2 linked regions of the Homo sapiens genome follow. The protein of the gene in region 1 purifies or fractionates together with the protein of each later gene. This does not show direct contact. Each region holds a gene or a part of one and is shown on either strand. Other genes may lie near its edges.

Region 1 (3,600 bases):
TGCCCTTGGGCTGGCCTTACTGAGGCAAATTGATAAGATGATAAGAAAAACACCTTGGGCCAGGCGGGGTGGCTCATGCCTGTAATCCCAGCACTTTGGAAGGCTGAGGTGGGCAGATTACCTGAGGTCAGGAGTTCAAAACCAGCCTTGGCAACACGGTGAAACCCTGTCTCTACTAAAAATACGAAAAATTAGCCGGGTGTGGTGGTGAGCTCCTGCAGTCCCAGCTACTCGGGAGGCTGAGGCAGGAGAATTTATTGAACCCAGGAGATTGCAGTGAGCCGAGGTCGTGCCACTGCACCCCAGCCTGGGCGACAGCGCGAGACTCCGTCTCAAAAAAAAAAAAAAAAAAAATCAATATCTTAAAGGGTAAGAGCAGCACCTGCGGGGCTCTCACAGGGTGCATACAGGGCTTCTTTCGTGCATGGGCACAGGAAGCACTGCCATACACAGGTGATGGCCCAATGTCTGCCTGCAATGCAGGGAGCTGGACACGTACAGGTGATTCTCGTGGCGGGCTATGGGGCGGGGCACACAGCGACAAGAGTCCAGGCAGCCAGCCGGCAGGGACAGGGAGTACAAAGAAGCGAAAACAGGATGGCACAGGAAGAACGAAGCACAGCTTTCCAGGCGGCAAAGACAGGGAGAACTGGGGGAGCTGGGAGTGGGGCTCGTACTTTGCCAGGTGACAGGAAGAGGAAGGCATTCCAGGCTGAGGGGTCAGCTTGAGTAAAGCCACACAGATGAGGTGTGGAGAGCAGGAGGGACTAGGGGAGGGGTGGAAGATGAGGCCTGGAAGGAAGAGAGGAGGCAAACCCGGTGCTGTTCCCAAAGTCATTCCCAAAGTCATTCTTCATTCATCGCTGTTTCTATTCATTCGACAGGGACTATGCTCAGCCTACGGACAAAGTGGTGAACGAGGCAGACACAGTTCCTGCCCTTGCAGAGCTCATGAGCTTGCAAATTCTAGACCTTAGTGTGGGCTTGGGGTGGATCCTGTATGGGTAGATTGGCCCAGAGAATTGTTCTGAGACCCCAAGGGCCCACATGGCATCTATGCCCGGTTCCACTGCAAAGACCCATGCTGTAACCAAAACAGGGCTAGGTGTGCCCCATCTTGCCAGTGAGGGAAGATAAAAAGTCACCATTCGGCCGGACGCGGTGCCTCATGCCTGTGATCCCAGCACTTGGCGGGCGGATCACTTGAGGTCAGGAGTTCGAGACCAGCCTGGCCAACATGGTGAAACCCCATCTGTACTAAAAACACAAAAATTAGACGGGCGTGGTGGCAGGCACCTGTAATCCCAGCTACTTGGGAGGCTGAGGCAGGAGAATCGCTTGAACCCGGGAGGCGGAGACGCTGGGGATAGTGCAGACCCGGAGGCGACATTAGAGGCAGGCTCTGGTTGTGTCCCGCCTGGACAAAAGCCTCCGGACCTACCTGTTCCCGTCCGCCTGCGCCCCTCGAGGGCCTTTCCTCCTGGCTGGGGGGCAGCGCAGCCCCCTGGGGACTCTCGGGGCGGCCTCATGCCCTGCCGCCTGCAGGGCGGCCTGCCGGGCGCCCTCACCTCCACCAGCGGATAGGCGATCTCGTTGTAGATCTGCTCGGTGACGTGGTCCACGTGGTAGGCGCCGTCGAAGGTGAACTGCTTGGGCGGCTCGTCGGCGGCGCCCGGGTTCTGGATGCAGCACTGGGCGCGCGCGCAGTCCACAGTCACCACGGGCTGGCAGCGCAGCTCTCGCTCCCGCTGGTTCATGGGACGGCAGCGCACGACAACCTTCACCGCCTCGGAGGCCATGGCGCCGCGCCCAGGACCAACGGGACCAGAGCTGACCCCCGCCCCGCCGGGGACTCCCAGCAGCCCGGGCCAAGGGGCGGGGCCAGCGCCGGCCACGGGGGGCGGGGCCTTGAGGCAGGGGCGGGGCCGCGGCGGGGGGCGGGGACCCCTCGGGGGGCGCCCCGGAGGGGAGCTGGGCGTCGCAGGACCCGAGCCGGGGCCGCCGCTTCCTCCCGCGCCCGGGCTCGCCCGTTTCTGAGGCCCGGCCCGAGCGGGGACGTGGGGGATCCGCGCTGCAGGCGCCGCCGCAGAACCCGAGCCCGGAGCCGCCCCAGCCGCCTGCCCGCAAGCTCACCGCCGCGGCGTTCGCGGTTGCTGGGCAACGCCCGTGGCGTCACAAGAGCGGCCCCGGGAACGCCCCGCCTGGCCCGCGAGCTTCGCCCGAGTGATCCCCGCAGCCACGCGCGGCCGCTTGCGGGAAGCGCCAGCCCTGGCTGGGCTCCTTTCGCGTCCGCTGCCTTCTCGAATCCGCACAGTCCCAGTTCAGAGATGTTACGCAGCTTGCCCGAGGCTGCGGCTAAGACTGGGGCCCGGGGCCCCAGGCTTGACTCCACCTCGGGGCTACAGAGATCCCAGGCCTCAGGCACGGGCCAGGGACCTAGGAAAAGCGGCAAGGACCTGTTGCCCCTTATCCACGTCCCCGTACTGGCTCAGGGAAAGGCTGCCCACCACCCACAGCCCCTGGACAGCTTCCTCTCATGCCACCCGTGTTATTTCTAAGACCCGAGATTGTAAAACAAACACTTTGGGAGCAAGTCTTTTGGGCCGGGCGCGGTGGCTCACGTCTGTAATCCCAGCACTTTGGGAGGCCAAGGCGGGTGGATCACCTGACATCAGGAGTTCGAGACCAGCCTGGCTAACATGGTGAAACCCGCGTCTCTGGTGGTGGGCACCTGTAATCCCAGCTACTCAGGAGGCTAAGGCGGGAGAATCACTTGAACCCGGGAGGCAGAGGTTGCAGTGAGCTGAGATTGCATCATTGCACTCCAGCCTGGGCAACAAGAGCAAAATTCCATCTAAAACAAACAAACAAACAAAAACAAGTCTTTTGGATGGAAGGCTGCCTGGCCTATCCCTCCTGGCTCAGTGCAAGTTCCCCAGCCAAAAGAGCACCTCCGTCACACCTCTGGGCGCTGGGCTCTTCCTTGCACTGAAACACTGAGTGTCGGCTACATGTCAGGCACCGTGACAGATGTTAGGGAGACAGCCCTCCTGCATGATCTAGCTGGAGAGACAGACACAGGAAACAAAATCCCACAAACAAAATCCCGAAAACGAAAATGTAATTACAAGCTGAATAATCAGTTCCATGCAACATATCTTTTTTTGAGACAGGGTCTTGCCCTGTCACTGAGGCTGGAGTGCAATCATAGCTCACTGCTGCCTCAACCTCAGGAGGTCTCAAGCGATCCTCCTAACTCAGCCTCCCGAGTGGCTAATTTTTTGTAGAGATGGGATCTCATTTTGTTGCCCAGGCTGGTCTCCAATTTCTGGACTCAAACGATCCTCTCACCTCGGCCTCCAAAAGTGCTGGGATTACTAGCACGAATCACTGCACCCAGCCTATGGAACATCTAAAAAAGGAACCTCACTCAGCCCAGGGTGTAGGGCAGGCATCCTGAGATTGACTGGAGCTGAAATATGATGGCTGAGTGGTTAACAAGGTGAAGGGAAGGGAGGAGGAGGAGGACGCCGGTCTGGGCTGTGCGGAGGTCCTGTGGCACATTGCAGAAGCAGAAAGCAAGCCCAGGTTGCCAGTGCA
Region 2 (4,016 bases), about 150 Mb from region 1:
CCATGAGCATGCTCAGGGCAGAATACATACCCAGAAAAAACCTGGGAAGATCATAAGCTTTTACCTCTGGCTGGTCTTCAGGCTCTGTGCAAGCAGCAAATGAAGGCTAAGGTAAAATTGTAAATTGCCTGGCTAAGTGTTGAAGCCATATCCAAACACTGAGTCAACCTACAAAGATCTGAAGAGTATTTTTTTCTTTTCTTTTTTTCCTTTGGATACCATAATATTCAAAATACCCAGTTTTCAACAAAACAAAATATGAAACATGCAAAGAAACAAGAAACTCATTCTCATTCTCACAATAAAAAAAATTAACAGAAACTGTCCATGCTACAGCACAAACACTGGACTTATCAAAGACTTTAAATCAACTGTCTTAAATATGTCCAAAGAGCAAAAAGAAACCAGTGCAAATAACTAAGAAAAAGGAGAAACACAATGTCTCAACACATAAATAGTTTAAAAATATATTATCATAAGGATCCAAACAAAAACACTAGATCTGAAAAGTACAATAACTGAAATAAAAAAATCACTACAGGGTTTTTAACAGCAGATCTGAGCAGAGAGAGAAAAGAATCAGCAAACTTGAAGATATGTCAAATGAAACTGTCCATTTTGAGGCACAGAAAGAAAACAGAATGAAGAAAAATAAACAGAACCTAAGAGACTTATGGAACACCATCTAGTATACCAACATATGCATAATGAGGGTATGAAAGGAGAGGAAGAAAGAAACATAGAGAATACTGGGAGAAAAAACAGTCAAAAACTTCCCAAATTAGACCAAAGACAAACTTACACATCCAAGAAGCTCAATGAAATTCAAAGATAAACTCAAACAGATCCACAATAAGACACTCTATACTGACGCTCTATTTAAAAAAATAAATAAAAGATTTTGAATTAATAACCTAATTTTACACCTTAAGGGGCTAGAAAAAGAAGAGCAAACAAAACCCCAAGCTAGCAGAAGGAAATAATAAAAAGCAGCAACAGAGACTAGAAAAAGAATAGAGAAAATGAAACCAAAGGTTAGTTCTTTGAAAAGATCAACAAACATTTTTGGAAAACTTTTAGTTAGACTGACTAAAAAAGAAAAGAAGAGACTCAAATTACTAAAATCAGAAATGAAAGTGGGACATTACTGCTGCTCTTTTGATGATTAAAAAATTACAAGAGAATAATATGAACACCAACAAATTGGATAACCTACATGAAAAAGAATAATTCCTAGAAACACACAAACTACCAAAACTGACTCAAAAGACACAGAAAATCTGAACAGAATTAGAAGTAAGGTGATTGAATCAGTAATCATAAACCTTTCAACAAGTCCAGTACCAGATGGCTTCACTGGTGAATTCTACCAAGCATTTAAAGACAAATTAACATAAATACCCCTCAAACTCTTCCAAAAGATATAACAGTAGAGGAAACACTTCCTAATTCATTCCATGAGGCCACCATTACCCTGATACCAAAGCAAGACAAAGACACTACAGGAAAACCTTTAGACCAATACCCTTTATGAATGTCGATGTGAAAATCCTCAAAATACTAGCAAACAGAATACAGGAGTATATTAAAAGGACCACGCAACATGGCCACATGGGCATTTCAATACAATACACCACATTAATGGAATGAAGAAAAAAAGTACATGATTATCTCAATCGATGCAGAAAAAAGCATCTGACAAAACCCAACATCTTTTCATGATAAAAGTACTTGATAAATTAGGAATAGAAGAAAAGTCCCTTAACATAATAAAGGGCATATATGAAAAATCTACAGCCAATATCATACTCAATGGTGAAAGAATGAAAGCTTTCCCCCTAAGATCAGGAACAAGACAAGAATGTTTATCCACTTTCCTGACTTCTATTCAACATAGTACTGGAAATTCTAGCCAGAGCAATGAGGCATGGGAAAAAAAAATAAAAAGGCATCCAGATTGAAAAAGAAGAAGTAAAATTATTTCTATCTGCAGAAGACATAATCTTATATATAGAAAATTCTAAAAATGGCACAAAAAACTGGCTAGAGCTAATAAATTCAGCAAAGTTGGAGAATAGATCAGAACACACCAAAAAAATCCACTGTTTTTCTACATATTGGAGCTGAAAAATATGAAAAGGAAATTTAGAAAACTTCATTTCCAATAGCATCAAAAAGAATAAAATACTCAGGAGTAAACGTAACCAAGGAACAACTGTATACTGAAAACAAAAAGTTGCTGAAAGAAATTAATATGAACTAAATGAAAAGAAATCACATGTTCATGGACTGAAGGACTTAATATTGTTAAGATGGCAATATTCCCCAAAGTGATCTATAGATTCATTATATTCCCAAAGTTTCAATAGCTTTTTTTGCAGAAATGAAAAAGCCAACCCTAAAATTCAAATGGAAATATAAGGAACCCTAAATAGCTGAAACAACCTTGAAAAAGAACAACAAAGTTGGAGGACTCACACTTCTGGATTTCAAAACTCACTACAAAGCTTCAGTAATCAAAACAGTGAGGTACTAGCACACGGACAGATAGATCAATGAAATATAATTGAGAGTGCAGGAATAAACCCCAACATTTTTGGTCATTTAATTTTCAAAAAAATTGCCCAAACCATTCATGGAGGAAAAGAACAGTCAATTGTTCTTTTCTGACATTTGTTCTGACAAATGATGTCAGAACAACTAGATAGTCACATATAAAAGAATGAAGATGGACCCTTGCCATATACCATAGACAATAACTAACTCGAGATGGATCAAGGATATTAAATGTAAAAGCTAAAACTGTAAAACTCTTAGAAGAAAACAGAGGGACAAACCTTCATGACCTTGGATTTAGCAGTGGTTTCTTAAATAACGATGCCAAAAGCATGAGCAACAAAAGAATAAATTAGACTTCACCAAAATTAAAAATGTTTGCATATGAAAGTTTTACATACCAAGATAGTGCAAAGAAAACCCACAGAATGGGACAAAGTATCTGTAAATCATGTATCTGACAAGGTTCTATTACAAAGAACTCCTTTTCCCAAAGAATAAAGACAAATGGCCAAGAAGCACATGAAAAGCTCAATGTCATTAGTAATTAGGGAAAGGCAAATCAATACCAAAATAAGATACCATTTGATATCCACTAGTATAGTAATAATTACAGAACAGAAAATAACAGGTGTTAGTGAGGATACGGAAAACTGAATTCTTATACATTGCTGGTGGGAATGTAAAATGGTGCAGTCACTAGGGAAAACACTTTAGTGGTTCCTCAATGAATTAAACATAGAATTACCATATGGTCTGGCAATTCCAGGCCTAGGTATACACCAAAAGATACAAAACAAGTGTTCAAACAAAAACTTGTACAGTAATGTTCACAGCAGCTTTATTCCCAATAGCCAATAGGTAGAAACAACCCAAATGTCCACCACCAGATGAGCAATAAACAAACAAAATGTGGTATATCCATAAAATGGAATACTGAATTAGTCAATTTTATGTTGCTATAACACAATACCTGAGACTAGGTAATTTATAAGGAAAAGGGGTTTATTTAGCTTACAGTTCCGCAGGCTGGGAAGTTCAAGGGCATGACTCTGGCTTCCAGTGAGGGCTTTTGTGCTTCATTATAACACAGTGGACAAGATCAAAGGGGAAGTGAGAAAAGAGAATACCCAAGGGTCTTCCTGGCTTTATAACAACCAACTCTAGAGGGAACTAATCCATTCCCAAGAGAGCTAATCCAGTCTCACTAGAGCAAGAATTCACTCACTCCAGCAAGAACAGCACCAAGCCATTCATGAGGGATCCACCCCCAAAACTGAAACACCTCCCAGGCTCCAGCTCCCAACACTGCCACAATGGGGGACCAAGTTTTAACATGAGCTTTGGTGGAAACGAACTATATCCAAACCACAGCAAATATTATGCAGCTATATAAAGGAATGAAGTACTGATACATGCTACCACACAGATGGACCTTGATATACCATGTGAGAAATGCT

The links.
Region 2: the proteins of KIF17 (region 1) and KIFAP3 purify together in Homo sapiens (co-immunoprecipitation; one large-scale study listed by IntAct). This does not show direct contact.

Annotation. Positions count from the first base shown.
Region 1 is NC_000001.11:20,715,908-20,719,507, forward strand, and holds the start of KIF17 (kinesin-like protein KIF17), read right to left. Parts: upstream 2,101-3,600; 5' UTR 1,800-2,100; coding exon 1,569-1,799; exon of another isoform or gene 1,442-1,568; intron 1-1,441. UniProt on the Homo sapiens protein: Dendrite-specific motor protein which, in association with the Apba1-containing complex (LIN-10-LIN-2-LIN-7 complex), transports vesicles containing N-methyl-D-aspartate (NMDA) receptor subunit NR2B along microtubules.
Region 2 is NC_000001.11:170,067,903-170,071,918, forward strand, and holds part of KIFAP3 (kinesin-associated protein 3), read right to left. Parts: intron 1,016-4,016; exon of another isoform or gene 1-1,015. UniProt on the Homo sapiens protein: Involved in tethering the chromosomes to the spindle pole and in chromosome movement. Binds to the tail domain of the KIF3A/KIF3B heterodimer to form a heterotrimeric KIF3 complex and may regulate the membrane binding of this complex.